Regions from separate parts of the Homo sapiens genome. Here region 1 is linked to region 2. The links come from fine-mapping of genetic effects on gene expression. Tissue or cell type: fibroblasts. Region 2 holds a variant in brackets; the other region holds the start of a gene. All regions are shown on one strand. Distances are from middle to middle.

What was found. PIP is the estimated chance that this variant, and not a neighbour inherited with it, causes the effect.
Region 1: it holds the start of PALS2, and the variant in region 2 is fine-mapped to the expression of PALS2 in fibroblasts (GTEx, PIP above 0.99).

Annotation. Positions count from the first base shown.
Region 1 is chr7:24,567,294-24,578,477 of GRCh38, reverse strand. PALS2 (protein associated with LIN7 2, MAGUK p55 family member) reads right to left here and starts at 5,026. Exons shown (of 12, transcript NM_001303037.2): 1 at 4,885-5,026. RefSeq lists enhancers at 4,158-4,277, 4,328-4,377, 4,323-4,822, 5,688-5,787, 5,808-5,877 and 1 more and a silencer at 4,478-5,547.
Region 2 is chr7:24,735,529-24,746,097 of GRCh38, reverse strand. It overlaps GSDME (gasdermin E), which reads left to right. Exons shown (of 10, transcript NM_001127453.2): 3 at 1,344-1,536. Among named protein-coding and RNA genes, the nearest start is that of GSDME, 17 kb to the left of the region's middle. RefSeq lists a silencer at 4,214-4,508. The variant T/C (reference allele first, on the strand shown) is at 3,925.

The DNA of each region.
Region 1 (11,184 bases), 170 kb after region 2:
AACGATAAATTCCCTTTATAACAACTAGAATGGATTTCTATTACTTATGGCCAAAAGAGGCCTGTTTACCATACTACTATCATTTTATAAAGGAGCATTTGAACACCGAAACCTCAGAAAGAACATGACCTCAGATTTTTTAAAAGGATGATTTATTTAATGACAGCTATGTGCCAGGAACAGGTCTAAGTCCTTGAAATATAGTGTTAATCAAAAGAGACAAGATCAGCAGGGTGTGGTGGTTCATGCTTATGATCCCAGTGCTTTGAGGCACTGAGGCGAGAGAATCCCTTGAGATCAGGAGTTTGAGAGCAGCCTGGGCAACACACACAGCAAGACTCCATTTCTACAGAATTTTTTTTTTTTAATTAGCTCGGCATGGTAGTTGTTGCCTATAGTCCTAGCTACCAGGAGGCTGAGGTGGGAGGATCACTTGAGCCTAGGAGTTCCAGGCTGCAGTGAGCCGTGATCACACACACCACTGCACTCCAGCCTGGGGTGACCGAGTGAGATTCTATCTCAAAAACAAAAACAAAAAGAGACAAGATCATTGATATCACGGGGCTTATATTCTAGTGAGTATGGAGATTATAAAATAATATAAAAACATAATTTCAGATACTGATAAATGGTTTGAAGAAATTTTTAAGTAAAAAAGGTAATGGGATTGAGGGGGATGAGGCTAGTGTCATTCTGGAAGGATGGTTAGGTAGCAATGCTTGTCTGAAAAGATGATATTTGAACTACAACATGAAATGATGAAAAGTAGTCACTCATGTAATGATTTAGGAAGAGTTCCCAACAGAGTGAACATAGTGCAAAAGCCCTAAGTTAGGAGCAAGCCATGGCATTGATGAGGAACAAAATGAAGGGCAATGTAGATGAAATATAGCAAAAAGTGGAGGAAGAGGGTAAAGAAATGATAGATTTAAGAGGAAAAGATGTAAATTGGTGAAGGAGGGATTAAATCATGTACAAAACTAGCAAGCAGTAGAAAGGATCTGAAAATAACTTGAGCTTTATGAAATATTCATTATATTGTCTTTAATTCTCATTTTGCCTTGTATCAGTGATAACTCTGACAGATAGGCTTTTAGAAACTTCCATTCCCAAGTACTTAACACAATCCTAAAGTTAGCCAGAGATGAATATATTCCTAAGCAGAAAGTATCTCTTCTAGTACACTATATTAAAAAAAAAAAAAAAGGAAAAAAGGAAAAAAGAATTTTCGGATGAAAGCAAAGTCATCTTAAAGGAAAGAAGGAAAATAACCTAGGATGAAGGAAAAATAGAAACTAATTTTGTTCTGTTCATTACTCTGTGAATATACTTACTATGATAAAGATTATAGAAAGGTCTTTGAATTAGTCTATCATAATTAAGGAAGGTCATAAAACTTAAGTTCTTTCTAAACTACTATAAACGTAGCAGCCTCTGTTTACTGAGTTCATTATTATTGAATTGGACATTAACAAGGTTAAATACTGTCAGAAAAGAAAAAGTAGAAACCAGGCTTTTGACTTTATTACACCTGGTAATAATGGTCACAGCTTAATGGTTAACAAAGTTGTGGGCTTTAATCTTATCTATATGACTATGATAAAGGAAGAACTTCCCCTCTGCGGTGAAATGAACACTAAAATTAGCTACATGGGATGCTTCAATATCTTCTCCTCCAAAAGCTTTTTATAAGAGGAGACCAATTTGTTTAAAGGGTTTGGATATAGATACACTTCACAGAAGAGTGATGATCTTTCCAGATCCTTCCAGACAACTAATATCTGTGTACTCTAAGCAAGCAATTAAACCTACACTGCTTCTAAGATTAATGCAAGTAAAGTCGGATCTTTGAAAGCTATAATGTATTCAGGAATCTTATCTTTCATTATGTTAGAGGCATACTTAGACCACTTAACAGTAGACTGTTAATAACACAGTCTATAAAGAATGATACTTTGTAAGCATGCTGTGAGTTAAAGAAAGAAAAGTCATTAAACACCTTGATTGAGACTTGCTTCAGAGTGCATCCTCCTCAGCACACTACCCAGCAGTTTGACAAAGTGCCCAGGATTAGCAGCCAATGTATGTAAAGAAGGAATATGGTCAAGCCCAATTGTAAAGTCTCCCCCCAGTGGTCAGATACAAGTAACAGAAAAGGAGGAAAATCATTGCAGCTTCTGTGAGACTGAACAGGAAGACTAAACAAAACTGGTCCCTACAACAAAAAAATAAAATCTTTAATTCAATACTAGCACCATATCAGGAAAGAGATCTCTTGTGCTTATCTGCTCTTATATTTATAAATGTGAAGACTACTTTTCTAAAGAACCTACAGTTAAAACAAAACTAGCATAATTTTTCTCCGCCTAAGTTTTAAGGAATAACTGACATATTCCCAAACAGTTCAGTATTTATCAAATGGGTAAGTGTTCATTCTTCCTGAAATAAACATCAGCACATCACTTACATGGTTAACTATACTTACCTGAAGTAGAGTTCTGATTTAAAAAAAAAAAATCTAGTCACTCATCAAGTGAATCACTCTGGAAGGAAAAATTATTAACTATTATATACCTAATGTGAATTTTACAAGATACTCTTTTTCAAAAGTCACCTAGCAATAGGTAATTTATATTAGAGTGATGTCAAAAGTATAAATGCGTCCTCTTACCTCTTTTAATTTTATTTTCTGGCTGTTTTTTTACAATTAGCCTTTGACTAGCACTAATCCTGTATTATTTGTAACTCTCTCAGCAATAATATGATGCTACTCCATTTTTACAAAGCTCAGATGTCAAAAATATGAAAGACATTTAATTAAAATATCTGTTTTATTCTGCTAATCCATTATTAAGTAGTAAAGCATGTAAAGGGATAGTAAATATTCAAACAAGCAACTTCAATTTTAAAACAACTTTTTAAAAAGATAACACATAGAGTCACAGTTATGTCTTCTTGGTTATCTCAAGCTAAAAAGAGGGGGAGTGGGGAGAGAAAGAGAGAAGCAGGCTATGTAGTGCTCTGGAACAATTTCAGCCTAAAATGAGACTCAGAAGCAAACTGCTCCCTCAAATGTTTAAAAATATGATTCATTTTTAAAAATCCAACAGTTGGCCTAAAGAAAAAAAAAGATTCTGTCTTATATAGAGCTACTAGACTTGCTTAAACACCTTAATTTTTCCAGTGTTGATTTAACCTAGAATGCAAAATAATTCATTTTGACATTCCAGATGTCAAGAATTCGGTGGCATCAGTAAGGACACATACACACCTCTTTCATAAAGATGGTGTGCAGTCTCCATAGGACAAAATTGAGCAATTAAAAGTGTTACCATTTGTGTATTATGTAACCGTAGTCCAGAATGAAGGAAACATGGACCTTAAAGAGTAACACATCGTGCAAACACGCATTTAAACACCTATTTAAATATATGATAGATTTAAGGTACAAATGACCTCAAAATGACACAACCCACAAAAGTTCTTTGTTTACTGTTAACAAGGCCTCAGAAGACATAACTATAATCAGGCCTACTACCCACTACCCTATCATTGCACAGTAGATGCCTACAATAAGCAATATTACTTGAGGTCCGTTGCTATACCTATATACGGAAACTATATACCGCATTACTAAAAATGTTACTTCGCCTGGTATATTCGACCAACATAAGTTTACAAATGATTTGCAAAATTTCACGGGAAGAAATGGCTGCTAAATCATACTCCAATTGAAACGCATTTTAACGCACCCCAAACGTTCTCAGCTACACTACAAGACCACTTGTAATATACTTGAAGCACAAAGTAAAATTCCAACACTCTCCAAAGGCGTAGGAAAGAATAAAACGTGGCTAGCCTGACCTTACCCGGCTGTTTATAAGTAATGCGGAGAATTTTCTGAGCTTCCCCGGCAGTCTTCAATTCTCTCCCTCGCTTCACCCCCACCCCCTACACAGATGCACACCCAACTGATGGAAGTTTAACAAATGTAATCTCGAGCTGCAATCCCAGAAACTGGTAGGATTGAGAATAAACTCCCAGTAAAGTGTTAAAAAGTCCTTCTGCAAAAAAACATCTACCAACCAATCCACATCCTGTCACCACACGGTCGGATACCTCAATCGACTCCCCTGCTGACCCTCCACCCAGCCAAAATAAAAAAGCCCCAGCACCTATTTGGTTTCAGACAAACGTACCGAGAATCCGCGAGCACGATCTCAGCAGCGAACGCCCCCGCGGCAGCCTGTGCTCGGCCCACAGCCACTTTGGCCAAACAACTGGAGTCTCGTACCTCGGAAGTAGCGGCGGTAGTTGGAGAAAGCCTCCTCCCCTACCAACTCCGAGCTCGGGAGAGAACCGGGAGCCGGCGGAATCACCCCCTCTCGGGACAGACCCCGGAGGTGTCAGTCACAGCAACGCCGCCCCCAGGCCGGCTCTCCATTCAGGCTCCACCGCGACTCCCGCCGCAGAGGTGTAGGCACCCAAGCCCCGCGCCCGAAGGGGCCCCGCGCGTCTGCGGCCCTAGCCCCAGTCGGGGCCGCGCCGGGGAGCGCGTGGGGAGCGGCGGCAAGCAGCATGGGCCAGACACGTTGCCGAGCTCCGGCCCGCCCAGCCGCCCGCAGCCAGAGAGGCAGGAGCCCGGCCGAGCGCCCCTTCCGCGCGGGCCGGGCTGGGGGCGGCCAGCAGCCTCCCCGACCGCGGCGCCGCCGCCGCCGCCTGCCGGTCCCTCTTCCCCGCGCCCGCCGAAGCCCAGGTGCCGAGGGGGGCGGGGCGGGCCAGGGTCCCCGCGTGGCGCGCCGCGCCGAGCAACAGGGCGCCCCCGGCCGGCCCGGCGCGCGGCGCGACCGTTACCCGAGCGGCGTGGGGGTCCAGTTAACTCACCGGCTCGCACCTCAGCCGCCTCCGCGCCGCCGCTGCCGCCGCTCCCGGTCGCTCCCCGCCGCCGCTGCTCTCCCTCAGCCACAGGCGCCGCCGAGCAGCCCCATCTGCAAACTCGTGGCTCGTAGTTGAGAACTGGAAATGCGTCTCTCACTGCCCTCCGCCTCCCTCTCTCTCCTCCCCCTCCCTCGCTCCCCACTCTGCCCCAGCTCCGGTCGCCCCCGCCGCTGCCTCCGCGCGCGCAGCCAGCCGCGCCTCAGCCGCCCTCCTCCTCCTCCTCCTCCTCCTCCTCCTCCTCCAGCCGCCGCCGCCGCCGCCGCTTGGGCGCGCTCCCAGCCGGCCTCGCGCGTGCGCCGGACGTCGGGGAGCGCGCGCTCGGGCGCGAGGAGGTGCCACCGCCTCCGGAAAGCCGGGCCCCGCCCCTCCCGCCGCGGCTGGGCGCCCAGGTGGAGCCCCCTCCCAGCTTCTGAGCGCCCAGACTGACTGCGCTCTGCGCCCGGCCGGCTCGCTTCAGGGGTCCCGGACCTGCGCCCGCGAGAGAGGGCTGGTCGGACCCAGTCCCCGCCGGGTCTCCTGGGCCGAAGTCGCAGCTGTCTGTCAGCATTTACGGGTGGGCAAGATACTCCTCGGGGCATAAAACAGGCTCCGCCCTGACCTTTCTGAGAGTTTTACATTCAAGAACCCAGTCGTGGGGCACAAAAGAGAAATGGAACGAGAAGAAAAGCCTCTGGAAAAATCTCCCCCTCCCCCTTCACAGACTCCACTGGATCTGATGTGTATTTGGCAGGTTCTACGGCGCTGACTGTGTCCTTCATTAATTTTTTCCCAAAGGCCCGACCGGGCAGTGTGATTCACACCCGAGGAAATGCATGGACACTGGCTCTTTTCATAGCACCGAGGCTCCCGTGGAACTCCCTGGGTCGGCTTTGCCAGACACTCCCTGGACACAGTTGTTCAGCTCCTCCCCAGCACCTGGGCTTCCCAGACCTCAAAAGGGTGGGGTTGGGGAGGGCATGCCATCCTTTCAGCCTGGACTCTGCGTAGAGCTTGGTGAACTGTGATGAGTGTCCGGATGTGTAGATGACACATTTTGACAGAAGTGCAGATTTAATTTTTCAGTTGAAAGGAACTGAGCAATGCACTGCAGCAGAGACTTCTGGCTAGAAAAACATAGCAAGGCAGCCAGAGAACTTCCGATCCCCTTAAAAGAGCTCTGTGAACCCTCAGACCTGTGACAGGCGGCTTTTGGAAAAACTATTGTGTTCTTCCTAAAATTGAAGAATGTAATTTACATTTTACAAAATGCTTACTGCAATCTTTTCAAACCATGAACGTAGAAAGTGCAAGTCAAACTTTACGTGTGAGGAGTGTTATGAGGTGGCCTCCTCTGTGCAGCCTTTCCTGGCTTCTCTTGGGCACCTTGCACAAACCAGACCATTAATAAGTGTTTGCAGAATAAATGCGTGCATCATGGCCCTTTGGATTCAGAGATGAAGTTATAAGTTGTATTGTCTCCTCTCTTTGTGAATGTGGCAGGCATGGAAGGGAGAGAGAAAATACTATTGATGAGATGTATTAAGAAGGTCCAGTGTCCAAAACAGTGATTTTTGTGTTTATCCTCAACCAAGCATCAAAGATTAATTTACTTTTCCATTAGGATCATTAATTTTGCAAACCAACATGCAGGGGGGCCTTGTACAGTGTTAATTTAGAACCTTCTTTCCTGGAACCACAAACCCAGGCAAAGGTAATTGGAAGCATTTAAGGAGACTCAAACGTGCCCAGGGCACAGAGTAGCTTTGGGCCCCCTGTAGTCAGGATGGCTGGATGAAATGAAGTGGAGTGGGCTCGGAGCCCAAGGCAGAGACAAAGCGGAAGGATGGGGTTTGTCTTCTCGGGGTGTCAGCAAGACCTTTCAGGTCCTTCTTGCTGCCCCAGGCCCACTTGCTTCTCACAGGACACCCATGGGTCCTCCCTGCTGTACCCTACCCAGGCTTGTGAACTCTTTTCCCTTCTGACTCTTAACCTTAACACATCCCCTTGGACCCAGCCACTTAGTTACTTGCCCTGAGCTTCTCTGGGGTTGGGGTGGGAGGTAGGGTATGAATGTCATTTCCAGATATGTTAGTGATCCTTAATAGTGCACTTTTATTTCCTCAAGGGTCTTCTGGAAACAATGTCCTAACCTACTCTACCCCTGCTCCCTGCAAGTAGAATGATGTTAACTGAGGAAGTTTTAGGGAGGGAGGGTTTGGGGTAGGCTCTGCCCCTCAAATTACATGCAGACCTACCTGACTTAAAGCTGGCACCACTCCTGGCCAACTGCTTTATCTCTGCATCTACCAGAGACCCAGCATTTGGGAGCAGGAATACAGGAACAATTATCTTTCATTTGCAGTTCCAAGTCTGTGCTCTAAGTAATGACAGCAGCTATCAGATGGAGGCTTATCACTGCCGTAAGACTCAGCTTCATTCTTAGAGTCAGAAAAATGATTTTGCTCCAATAACTGTCTTTGATTGCTCCCCTTCAGAAAGCTCTTGCCGGTGAAGTTCCTCTCTCAGTGTCAGATGAGTATTGTATCAAATACTCATATACAGTTATAAAAGGAAACACTATTTCCTTTTATAAATGATATTCCCATTTTATAACATTCTGCCCTTCCTCTAAACTTTAAAGGTGGGACATGCCAGGATAAATTTAAAGTGTTCTCAGTTAAACATTGGAACTCCCATCATTGGTTCCCAACTCAGCTTTCTGAGAGGTCATCATACTGAGACACCACCATCCATTTCCCATACCGGTTACAAATTCTTCATTCCAAGAAAGGGGAATGATATGATTGAGAATGATGGTGGATCTTTCTCTTCAGTGTCCTTAATAGTCTGACTTTTCATTTCCTTCAAGGTTACTCTAAAGGGATCATAATTTTACCACAGCCCAGTATCTCCCAACGGTAATTCAATTTAAAATTTGAATTTTGATTCTTAATTCAGGAGCATCCATCACTCAATTTTGTTTCCTCCTTCAAATGTAAACAACATACACTTTTAATGTGATTACATTTTCTTTTCTCTTCTGACCTGCTTTGCTCCTACAGAAATTGAGAATTTTGCTAATAGCCCCGAATTTTAGCAAAAGCAAATCCTGTGTACTTGTTTTTCAACTAATCCATCATAGTAAAAGCAGTGACACTCCTGGAGGATAGCTTTATTTAAAAATGCAACTGGCATGCATCACAAAGTCCAACCAAGTTTTCCTTCAGAATACTTTATTTAGCTTCACTCCTTTTATCTCTGCTCACAAAGCTAGGTCAGATTCCAATTTCCAGCCTCCTTGCTAACCTTTCTAATTCTAGCCTCTCTCTTGCTTCCTTGCAATTTATCCTATACTCAGAGCAGTGCTTCTTAATTTTTGGCTCTTTATTGAAATCACCCAGAGAACTTTAAGAAACAAAACAAAGCACTGATGCTTTGATGCCATCCCAGACTTAATTGCTCTGGAGCACAGCCTGGGTGCCAGGATTTTTTCAGAGCTCTCCAGATAACTCTAATACGCAGCCAGAGTTAAGAACTATGGAAATGAATCATCTTCCAAACAACATTTATACCAAATCTTCACAACAGTGGGGTAGCTCCAAATTACCTCGAGTAATCAAATTAAAATTCCTAATCCTGTGCTTTAAGACTCTTTGCCAATTGACTAGAATAGTCCCCTTTCAAAACAGCTTAAATTTATCTCCTTCCTAAAGCTTCTCCAGATTAGTCTCACCTGGCTGCCTGAAGATCACCGTTCCCAGCTCTGAGCATCCCGACTGGCACTGGTTTACAAACCGCTGGACCTCAGTTGATTGTGTACATTATTGTTTTAATCTTGCTTTCATAGATATTTGTCAGAGGCTTTTCTTATAATCTAAATCTTTCCAAAAGTCCCACTGGGTCAACTGTCTCAAACAGAAATGTCTTAGCAGAACTTTCTCCTCTAAACTAGCTGTCTGAAAAAACATTTCCTGATACGATGGCAGTTCTTTTTTTTTTTTTAATCATCACAATTAAAGCCAAACATTATAAGAACTTGAGTTTTGGGGTTGTTTGGTTTTTCCTTAAAAAAGAAAACTATATATCTCAGCATATCTCCTTGACTTTTCTTACCATTATTTGTTTATTTTAGGCATTGGAATTGGGCTTCCACACCCACTTCTCTGCTGAAACTACTATTTCCATCACAATTAACATTTTCATTCATGTGTTCATCCATTCAGTCACTCATTTACTAGTGAAGCATAATGAAAATAAAAAAATTAACAATATCAAGTAGTCCCTACCTAATGGCGAAGAATAATAAGCAAAATATTACATAATAAGTGCTATGCCAGGTGTCTTAATAGTATATGACAGAATTAGTGGGGAAGGTCTTTGCTTAGTGTTCATGCCATTGAACTTCTCTGCAGTGTTTGAGGAGGTTAATCTCTCGTACTCTCACTCTCTAAACCTCTCTTTTCCTTTAACTTCTCTGATACCATACCACCTGGGAGCTCTTTCGACCTCTCTGACTGTTCCATCTCTGACCCTTACTTTGCTGTGTTATCTCCTCCTACTTCCTAAAGAAAAATGTTCCACTAAGAATGAAATAAATTTTTGAGGAGAAACTTAAAAAGAGCAGATAGTACTGTTTATCTTGAGAATCCCAGGGATCCTTAGGACTCTAGCACCAATGCTTCCACATCTGTATCTATTCTCCCTTGAGGCATATTTTCAACTCGCTGTTGAAAATTTCCATCTAGATAAGCTATTCACGGGGTTGCTCCTGCTGGTTTTTCTGGCACCTTCCTTTCCTTTACCTCCTTTTACCATCTCCTGAACAAACACATACTCAAATCCCTTGCAGCCCACTTTCTCAAAATTATAGGAATGGATTCTCTTGTTTATTTGCTTTAGTCCTACAGAGTCTCCTAACTCATCTCCCTGCCTCAGGGCCTCCTTGCCCTGACTGCCAGGTGCCAGTCATTTTATCCCTGTCTCCTTACTGCCTACGGGACCCCATTTACAAGGTCATTCACAATGACAGTCAAAGCTTCCCTGTTTGGATATTCTAGTTAGTCATATCTTGTATCTTTATGTTTCTACCCCTGTTTTTGCCTTCTGCCATCTCTGCTGGCCAAAATCCAAGCATGTGTGCTCATCTCACACCCTCCTTTTCCATGAAACCCTTTCTGCCTCACCTCAAACAGAGGTACAGTAGTCCCCCAGTCCCCCCTTATTCATGGTTTCACTTTCCAAGGTTTCAGTTTTCCTCAGTACAGTATGATAAGATATTTTGAGAAAGAGAGACACTATGTTCACGTAACTTTTATGAAGGTATATTGTTATAATTGTTCTATTTTATTATTAGTTATTGTTAATCTCTTAACGTGCCTAATGTATAAATTAAAAACTTTATCATAGGTATGTATGTCTACAAACCATAGTACATATATATATATATATATATATATATATAAAATATGTACAGTGCAGTACTATCCATGGTTTCAGGTATTCACTGGGGGGCTTGGAATGGATGCCCTCTTGGATAAGAAGGGACTAGTGTAATTGCTCTCCTTTGAACTCCTGTAGCACTTTAATTGCATCTTATGGCTCCTTTCCTATTCTGCTTCATAAAAGCATCATTTATGTTTTCAAATATTTATCTTTGCATTCTTTTTACCGCCACTCAGCCCCATCCCCTTCTTTCTTGCAGGTAAAATCCAGGGTGATGTGTACAGGAATGCCTGTAGCACTTGGCATAGTACTGCACATAGTAGCTGCTCATTTATTGAAACAGATAAACCTGTTAGTTGGTAGACTTCTAAAATTAAATAAAATTAAGTGAAAAATGTTGCTAATTACAATTGAACACTTGTTCCAGAATATGCAAGTTACAGATGAAAAGCTCTTAGAAAGACAATCAGATTTCAAGCAGTGACCTTAATTGAGCTTGACTTTATCTCACCAGGAGCCAGCATCTATATGTAATTAACCCTTTTAGATACTCATTTAAAATCGGCCTCTAAATTCTACCTCTCCCATTATATATATGAACTGAAAAAAAAATCCTTCTACTCAAGTATCAAAAAGAAGATTAAAAAGACATAGGAAAACAGGAAAAACCTTTCTTAAAAATTTGTAAAAATATATAGTGTCAGTATAGTGTGTACCTTTCCCCATTGAAAACACAGACAGGCACGAAGTCCTGGAGGGCAGTGGAGGTCTTCTGGAAGAATCTTCTGGCATGACAGGCAAAAAGGGTGTCAATGGTGATTAAAC
Region 2 (10,569 bases):
TGATTGCAGTGGAAGAAGTGTAGGTGAAGTATGGGTGTTGGGGCAGTGAGTGGATGGAAAGAAGCCTTTCAGACTGCCGGTGGGTTTGAATCCCCTGTGAAGGGCAGCCGGGAGCCCAGGAGAGCCTTGGGTCAGGACAATGGAAAAGGCCAAGTGTGAGGTTCCTAGTGGACTCTTAATGTCTCCTTACCAAATGGTGATGATAGAGACTATTTTTAAAATCATTATTTTTATTTGTTATTATTTTTATATTTTCTTAGAGATAAGGTGTTGCTCTGTCACCCAGGCTGGCGTGCAGTGGCATGATCATTGCTCACTTGTAACCTTATACTCCTGGGTTCAGGTGATCCTCTCACCTCAGCCTCTAGGGTAGCTGGTGTTGCCCAGGTTGGTCTTGAACTTCTGACCTCAAGGGATCCTCCTGCCTCAGCCTCCTAAATTGCTGGGATTACAAATGTGAGCCACCACACAGAGACTATTTTTAGGGTGGTTTTTGTTTGGATTACAAAAGAGAATAGTAGAAACCTGGAGATGTGAGAAGGCTGACAGTTCAGATATGAGATCAGACATTTATCATTTTAAAAAGGGCATGTCCACTGACCTTATCAGGAAGTCAGAGATAAGGAATTATATGATGAGGAATTGAATGACTGGGTAGAGGTCAGAGAGAGAATCATAAATATGGGAAGGGAATAATTTGACTGGAGATGGTAATAAGGGCCAGGGGATTGTTTTCCAAGACTGGTGGGTGGGTAGACAAGATGCCCCCAGACAGGCCTAGGTGGCCAAGGAAGGCTGTCCTCTCGCGGTGCATCCAGAATAGGGGCTGCTGTTCTCTCTCTGTTTAGTTGTCTTCTTTGTCTAGTCCCTTTCAGTCTTCACCCTGGAAAAGTACACATTTAAAATGGTCTATTGATCCACCTGGATAGTGGTTAAACAGGCGCTAACTTTATTCATTAGTCCTTTCTGTGCACCTTTCTATACGTATTGGGATTGAAAACCAATGAAAGAGAAAAGCTTCTAGTGGAGCCCTGGTCACTGGTCCACTGTGTGCCCGTGGTCCACACACACACACACACACACACACACACACACACACACACACACACACACGTGCTGCACTGGTCCACTGTGTGCCCGCGGTCCACACACACACACACACACACACACACACGTGCTGCCCTGTTTTCTTGCCCACACACACAGCATGGCTGCCGGCTTTCCATCTGAGTGCCAGCCTTCTGCTTTCCGGGGCTCTGCACAGGCTTGGAAAGCTAAATGACCCAAGACATCTTGGTGGCCTTATCATCATCGGCTTCCTCTGCTCGTCTCCTCCATTCCAGTGGTCGTGGAGTCGGACTTTGTGAAATACGAGGGCAAGTTTGCAAACCACGTGAGTGGAACCCTGGAGACTGCACTGGGGAAGGTCAAGCTGAACCTGGGGGGCAGCAGCCGCGTAGAGAGCCAGTCTTCATTTGGAACCCTGAGGAAGCAGGAGGTGGATTTGCAGCAGCTCATCAGAGACTCTGCCGAGAGGTAAGGAGACTTGTTTGGCATTTTGGATTTTGACACATCTCACATTTAAAGGTCATTCAGTTGGACCTTTGTTAAAAGGGCGACAGATTTGATCTCTGCCGATCAATAAACATGTATTGAATGCGCTTGTGTTGAAATTTCATGAGGAGCACATTCTTTAGTCTGGAATTGCTTGACTGTTCTTAGCCTGAGTGGGGGGAGACTTGGGAAGCACTTTCAAAGGATGTTACTTCAGGCAAATATGTACTTCCTTCAATCACATGATTTATAAAATGCGAACGGTAAAAATGCTCTGTCCTGCATTTTTGAATATTAACTTTAGAAGCCAGGAAGTCATGACCCCCCTCTGGCTCTATAATTTTCTGATGAAAAAAAGAAGAAAGCAAGTGAGAGGCGCGTAAAAAAGTTCAAAAATAAGAGCTCTTTTCAGTCTTTGAAGTCTTGAAGAAAACCCCACATTTATTCATTGTTTGGCTTTCGGTAAATACATCTTACCACACTATAGCTCATCATTATTCTTACCTCATATTTATTCAACATTCAAAAAATAATTGTATTGAGTGCGTCCTATGTGCCATGTACTGTTCTACATTCTGGGGAGGCTGCAGAGAGCAAAATGCCCAAATGTCTGCCTTGCATTCTAGTGAGGAGAGATACCAAACGTACAACTAAAGTAAAATGTGCAGTAGGTTGATGGGAATCGGCAGCAGTGAGAGGGGCTAGGATGTGCTAGGAATGGGGGCTACGAACTTAGAAAGTGTGGCCAGAGAAGGTGTTATGGAGAAGCTGGCATTAGGGCAAAGCTCTGCAGGAGGGCAGGGAAGGCACAGGGGCATCTGGGCAGGACGCTGTGGGCAGTGGCCAGAGTGGCCTGTGCCCAGTGAGCAAGGGGAGGGCAGGAAAGGAGAGTCGGAGGGGCTGAAAGGGGTGGGGCGCCAAGTCCCACAGGACCTTGAAGGCCACTGGAAAGGCTCACACTTACTGAGAGCCAGTGGAGGGTTTTGGGCAGGGAAGGGGCGTAATCTGATGTATTTTTTAGAAGGATCATTCTGGCTGCTGAGTTAAGAGACTGGATGGGCAGCAGCAGGGAGTTCAGTTGAGAAGTTATTGCAGTAATTCAGCGGGGATGATATTTCAGTTTGTACAGTAACATGTGCATTTTCCTGTGTAATTTTGTTGCCCTTTAGTCTTTTAAAGCAAAAATTCAAATCCAAATAAATTAAGAGAAAATTCACTTGTATTTAAGTATGGCTGGCTTATTTCATCTTTTGCAACATTTTAAAGATTATATGGAATATTAAATAAGTGCTCATTCCACAAAATTATGTTTAAAAATTAATAAAAAATACGATAAAACTCACATAGCATTAGGTGGGTGGATTTTGTACAGACATTGAGGGTGCCTGGGCAGCTGCCGTCTTCAAGTCCCAAGCCCCTCTTCAGTAACTGCCCATGCTTACTGGAACTGAAGGACCATGGCTGTGCGTTTACTGCCTACGGGCACTTTCTAGGACTCCAAGACCACACAAAGCTGTGACTCCACCAGGGGTTCCCTTTTGGTCAGATGATTTGAAGTTCTCTCTGGTAGCACCAGGTAGAAGGGACAGCTGCCTCTGTCTCTGGCAGTCATGATCTTTATTTTCCTTTCTCTACAGCTTATCTTTGCTAGAGTCCCATTTTCCTTCTCAACTGCAATTGTTGGGACACACTAGAAATGTATTTGATATTTATCTGAAATGAAAATTTAACTGGGTGTCTTACATTTTCATTTGCTAAATCTGGTGGCACTGGGGAAGGGGAAAAGGGAGGCGGGGGGTGTCCAGAGCGTCTTCTCTGCTCCCTCAGTCTCACCCAACCCTCTCTAGCTTAGATGCGCTTTGCAGTCTCGTTATTTCTATTTCAAGAAGCACAGTTTGGCAATGTCCTATAATCACATTTCTCGATATAGGTTTTTAAACACCATGATTCAGGTGTAAAAGCTCTTGCTAAAAGGAAGCATATGAGGAGGCTCACTGAGAAGAGATGGGAGAAAACATTCCGGAGAGAAAGAAGCCAGAGCCAACAGTTCTGAGTGGAGGAAGAGGGAGTGGGGGAGGGAAAGGAAAGGAGCATCCGCAGAGCACCTACTGTGTGCCAGGCACTTTATATGTAGCCTCTCCTTAACTCTGCACAGCCATCTCCTTTTACACTTAATGGCACCAAGGCTCAGGAAGGAGAAATAACTTATTCCCAGACACAGAGCTCAATTTGGATGCTGGTGCTGGGATTCAACTCAGGATTTTCTGGCTCCAAAGCTCCTGTTCTTTCCTCTAAATCATGTAAAAGTCTTAAAATGATAGCACAGAATGTTAAGGCCGAGGCATGAACCCGCGTCCCTAGGGAGGATAC[T/C]TGGTGGGTGAATCATGGAATAGAAACTATCCTGAGCAGGCACATGTGCATAGCGAGGCCTGCTCTCCTGGAGGTGCCTGGACACAGGGATGAGATCACTTGGACTCGGGAGTCCTATTACTTGTAGTGGTGATGGGGGAAGGGATGCCCTGGGGAGTGGTGCCACCAGAAGCATGATAAAGAATAAATACAAGGACTAGAACCCAAAGAGGAGTTTTATCACAGAATCACCTCACCCTTGTTAGGCGGCTAGGAGGACAGGGTGAACTATAGGGGAGGGGAGGACAGGGGCGGGAAGGGAAGACTTCTGCTCTTGGCATGGAGCTCAGTAAAGCTAACATTCTTGTTACGTCATGCTGGAGTAATAAATTCTTATCCACGTTGTCTGCCTGTCTCTGGACTCCCCATAACATCATTGGGATTGATAAGGCGTTGTTGATACATGCGTGGCCTTGGGAGTGGCAGTTCGTGATGCTTAAGGACTGTACATTCCCGAGGGCTTATTTTCAGTCACTTTTATTTCAGGTCATTTAGATAAGTTGTCATCTGCAGACAAGTTATTTTAGGCCTCAAAAATCAGAATATTAGCTTTATTGTCTATGAAATGTGTGCACATATCAAAAACAAACTTTGTCCTTGAAAAAACAAGCCTGTGCTGGGCAGGAAGGCATTCCACAGAAATTAACCTTCCGGATACCTGGAGCTGACCCCTTTGAATGCAGTCTCTGTGCAGATCTTAGCATTCTTGATGGAAACTATTCTAAGATATGTCACATACTTTTTTTTTTTTAAATGGAGAATAACAAATTTATTGAGTCTTTTTCATAGTGACTCGGATAAGCTCTTTCATTTTTGTGTTTAATAAGCTTTCATTATTATTCTGTAATACGCTTTTCATTTGTCTGCCTTGTCTTCCGTGGTCAGCTGCCATTTGTCACTACCATAAGTATAAAAGCCACAGCCCACCCCACCTCTGCCACTAGCTTGTTGCTTCTAATTTCCTAGGGTCTGGTAAGTTTATTCCTGGTCAATAACTTAGGTCGACTTGGTAAGCCGTTTCTGCCCTTGGGTTCAGTTTCCCCAGCTGTAGGTGAGATAGTTGGACTAGATGATCTCTGAAGGCTTTCTCCTGGCTGAATGTCTGGAAGTGAGTGGACTCTGGAGCGCGCACACCTGTCAGCTCCCTCCCCTGAGTTCTGGGCCGCGGTCCCGGCTGTTTTCCAGAGACCATGCTGCGTTGTGCTTTCCTGGCTATTTGGGGATTGAGGAGGGTGTTACCATAAAGGCATATCCCACTTTTATTCTTCATCATATTGTAAAGGGAATTTTGGTAAAGCAGATTACATTTTTCTATGCACATACAGTAATGAGAAGTTTGGTTCTTTATTAGGAATTCCAAATTAAATAAATTATATGAAACCAGTATATTAAAGCAATGTCATGACCATGATAAATCTTCATAATTAAAATGTTTCAGAATTACACTGAATATATATATACATATATTTACGTAAATATATATACATACATTTATGGGATATATGACATTTTTTAATGAGGAATTTTTAATGGGAAAATACATCTCATGAGATGTTTTGATACAGGCATACAATGTATAATAATCACATCATGTAAAATGAGGTATCCATCACCTCAGGCATTTATCCCTTGTGTTACAAGCAATCCAATTATACAGTTTTAGTTATTTTAAAAATGTACAATTATTATTGGCTTTAGGTGTCCTAAAGTTATGCTATCACATACTAGATTTTATTCATTCTTTAGGTATCCTAAAGTTATGTTATAAAATACTAGATCTTATTCATTCTTTCTATTTTTATTGGACCCATTAACTATCCTCGCATCCCCCTACCACTCTCCCACTACCCTTCCCAGCCTCTGGTAACCATCCCTCTACTTTCTATCTCCATGAGGTCAATTGTTTTAATTTTTAGTTCAAGAAATAAATAAGAACATGTGAAGTTTATCTTTCTGTGCCTAGTTTATTTTGTTTAACATAATGACCTCCAGTTCCATCCCTGTTGTTGCAAATGACAGGATCTTATCCTTTTTTTTTTTTTGAGATGGAGTCTTGCTCTGTCACCCAGGCTGGAGTGCAGTGGTATAATCTTGGCTCACTGCAACCTCCGCCTCCCAGGGTCAAGCAGTTCTCCAGCCTCAGCTTCCCGAGTAGCTGGGATTACAGGCACCCATCACCAAACCTGGCTAATTTTTGTATTTTTAGTAGAGATGGGGTTTCACCATATTGGCCAGGCTGGTCTTGAACTCCTGACCTCGTGATCCGCCTGCCTTAGCCTCCCAAAGTGCTAGGATTATGGGCGTGAGCCACTGCGCCCAGCCCAGGATCTTACTCTTTTTTTAATGACTAAATAGTACTCTATCGTGTATATTTACCACATTTTCTTTATTCATCTATTGAGGATTAGGTTGTTTCCAAATTTTGACTATTGTGACTAGTGCTGCAATAAATGTAGGAGTGCAGATAGCTCCTCAGTATACTGATTTCCTTTCTTTTGGGTACATATCCAGCAGTTGGAATGCTGGATAGTATGGTAGCTCTATTTTTAGTTTTTTGAGGAATCTCCAAACTGTTCTTCATAGTGTAGTAATTTGCATTACATTCCCACCAACAGTGTACAGGCATTCCCTTTTTTTCCACATTCTTATCAGCAGTTTTTATTGCCTGTCTTTTGGATAAAAGCCATTTTAACCAGGGTGAGGTGATAACTCATTGTAGTTTTGATTTGCATTTCCCTGATGATCAATGATGTTGAGCACATTTTCATATGCCTGTCTGACATTTGTATGTCGTCTTTTGAGAAATGTCTATTTAGATCTTTTGCCCATTTTTAACAGGATTATTAGATTTTTTTCCCTACAGTTGTTTGAGCCCCTTTTATATTCTGGTTATTAATCTCTTGTCACATGGGTAGTGTAAAAATATTTTATCCCATTCTGTGAGTTGTCTCTTCATTTTGTTGTTTCATTGCTGTGCAGAAGTCTTTAACTTGATATGATTCCATTTGTCCATTTTTGCTTTAGTGGTTCGTGTCTGTGGGATGTTACTCAAGAAACCTTTGCCCAGTTCAATGTCCTAGAGAGTTTCCCTCGTGTTTTCTTATAGTAGTTTCATAGTTTGAGGTCTTAGATTTAAGTGTTTAATCCATTTTGATTTGGTTTTTGTATATGGTGAGAGATAGGGTCTAGTTTCATTCTTCTGCATAGGGATATACAGTTTTCTCAGCACCATTTATTGAAGAGGCTATCCTTTCCCCAATGTATGCTCTTGGCACCTTTATTGAAAATGAGTTCAACATAAATGTATGGATTTGTTTCCGGATTCTCCATCCCATTCCATTGGTCTGTATTTTTGTTTATATGCCATTACCATACTGTTTTAATGACTATAGCTCTGCAGTATAATTTGAAAGTCAGGTAATGTGATTCATCCAGCCTTGTTCCTTTTGCTCAAGGTAGCTTTGGCTATTCTGCATCTTTTGTGGTTCCACATAAATTTTAGGGTAGTTTTTTTTCTATTGCTGTGAAGAACATCATTGGTATTTTGTAGGGATTGCATTGAATCTCTACAAAGTATAGATTACTTTGAGTAGTATGGACATTTTAACAATATTTATTCTTCTGATCTGTGAATATGGAACATCTTTCCATGTTTTTTGTGTCCTCTTCAATTTCTTTCATCAGTGTTTTATAGTTTTCATTGTAGAAATTTTTCACTTCTTTGGTTAGTTTGTAGATATTTAATTTTATTTGTAGCTATTGTAAATGGGATTATTTCCTTGATTTCTTTTTCAGATTGTTCTCTGTTGCCCTATAGACATGCTACTGATTTTTGTATGTTGATTTTATATCCTACAACTTTAGTGAATTTGTTTATTGGCTTTAATAGTTTTTTGGTGGAGTCTTTAAGTTTTTCCAAATATAAGATCATGTTTTCTGCAAACAAGGATCATTTGACTTCTTCCTTTCCAATTTGAATGCCTTTATTCTTTCTCTTGTCTGATTGCCCTAGCTAGGACTTCGAGTACTATGGTGAATAACAGTGGTGAAAGTGGGCATCCTTGTTGTGTTCCAGATCCTAGAGGAAAGGCTTTCAGTTTTTCTCCATTTCAGTATGATACTAGCTGGTTGGTCTATCATATATGGCTTTTATTGTGGAACTATGTTCCTTCTATGTGCAGTTTTTTATCTTGAAGGGATGTTGAATTTTATCAGATGCTTTTTCAGCATCAGTTGAAATAATCAAATGGTTTTTGTTCTTCATTTTGTTGATATAATGTGTCACACTGATTGATTTGCATATGTTGAACCATCCTTCCATCCCTGGGATACATCTCACTTGGTCATGATAAATTATCTTTTTAATGTATTGTGGAATTCATTTTGTTAGTATTTTGTTGAGGATTTTTGCATCACTGCTTGTAGTTTTCTTTTTTTTTTTGATGTGTCTTTGTCTGGTTTTGGTATCAGGGTAATACTGGCCTTGTAAAATGAGTTTGAAAGTATTCCCTCCTTCTCTGTTTTTTGGAATAGTTTGAGTAGGATTGGTATTCATTCTTTTTTAAATGTTTGGTAACATTCAACAGTGAAGCCATCAGGTTTTTGTTGGCTTTTCTTTTCTGGGAGACTTTATTTTGGCTTTGATCCCATTACTTGTTTTTTTTGTTATTTTGGCTTTGATCCCATTTCTTCACGGTTCAATCTTGGTAGGTTTTGTGTCTAGGAATTTATTCATTTCTTCTAGGTTTTCCAATTTATTGGTGTATAGTTACTCATAGTAGCCTCTAATGATCCTTTGAATTTCTGTAGTATTAATGTAATGTCTCTTTTCTCATTTCTGATTTTATTTATTTGGGTCTTCTCTTTTTTTCTTAGTCTGGCTAAAGGTTTGTCAACTTCATTTATCTTTTTAAAAAAACAAACTTTTGTTTCATTAATCTTTTGTATTGTTTTCCTCATTTTAATTTATATCTGTTCTAATCTTTATTATTTCTTTTCTTCCACTAGCTTTGGATTTGGTTTGATCTTGATTTTCTAGTTCTTTAAGATGCATTGTTAGATTGTTTATTTGAAATTTTTCTACTTTTTTGATTTATGTACAGCTATAAACTTCCTCTTAGTACTGCTTTTGATGTACCCCATAGGTTTTGCTGTTGTGTTTCTGTTATCATTTGTTTCAATAAAATTTCAATTTTTCTTAGTGTCGTCATTGACTCACTGGTCATTCAGGAGCATGTTGTTTAATTTCCATGTATTTGCATAGTTTCACAAATTCCCCTTGTTATTGCTATATAGTTTTTTTATTCCACTGTGGTCAGAGAAGGTACTTTATATTATTTCAATTTTTTGGATGTTTTGAAACTTGTTTTGTGGCCTAACATATGGTCTATCCTTGCGAATGATCCATGTGCTGAGGAAAAGAATGTGTATTCTTCAGTTGTTGGATGAAATGTTCTGTATATATCTATTGGGTCTGTTTGGTCTGTAGTGCAGATTAAGTCTGATGTTGATTTTCTGTCTGGATGATCTGTCAAATGCTGAAAGCTAGGTGTTGATGTCTCCAGGTATTACTGCACTGGGGGCCTATCTCTTTAGCTTTAATAATATTTTCTTTATATATCTGGGTGCTCCAGTGTTGGGTACATAAATATTTACAATTGTTATATCCTCTTGCTGAATTGACCCCTTTATCATTATATAGTAACCTTCTTTGTCTCTTCTTATAGTTTTTGTCTTGAAATCGATTTTGTCTGACATAAATATAGTTACTCCTGCTGTTTTTTTGCCTGTGATTTGCATGGGCTTTTTCCATCCCTTTATTTTCAGTCTATATGTGTCTTTATAGGTGAAGGGTGTTTCTTGTAGGCAACAGATCATTTGGTCTTTTTTTGTTGTTTTTAATCCATTTAGCCAGTGTATGTCTTTTAATTGGAGAGTTTAGTTACATTCAATTATTATTGATAAGTAAGGATTTACTCCTGTCATTTTATTATTTGTTTTGTGGTCTTCTCCTCCTTCTTTCTTTTCTTCCTGTCTTCCTTTTAGTGAAGGTGACTTTCTATGGTGGTATGATTTAATTTCTTGCTTTCTATTTTTTGTGTATCTGTTGTAAGTTTTTTATTTGAGGTTACCATGAGGCTTGCAAATACCATCCCATTATTGTAACCCATTATTTTAAGCTGATAACAACTTAACACTGCTAGCATAAACAAATAAAAAGAAAATGAATACAAACTCCACGCCTTAACTTTGTCCCCCGGCTTAACTTTTTCCTTTTTTCTATTTATATCTTATTGTACAGTCTATGTCTTGAAAAGTTTTTGTAGTTTTATTTATTTATTTATTTATTTATTTATTTATTTATTTATTTATTTTTGAGATAGAGTTTTGCTGTTGTCACCCAGGCTGGAGTGCAGTGGTGCAATCTCGGCTCATCGCAACCTCTACCTCCCAGGTTCCAGTGATTCTCCTGCCTCAGCCTCCTGAGTAGTTGGGATTACAGGCGCCCACCACCACGCCCGGCTACTTTTTTGTATTTTTAGTAGAGATGTGGTTTCGCCATGTTGGGCAGTCTGGTCTCGAATTCCTGTCTTCAGGTGATACACC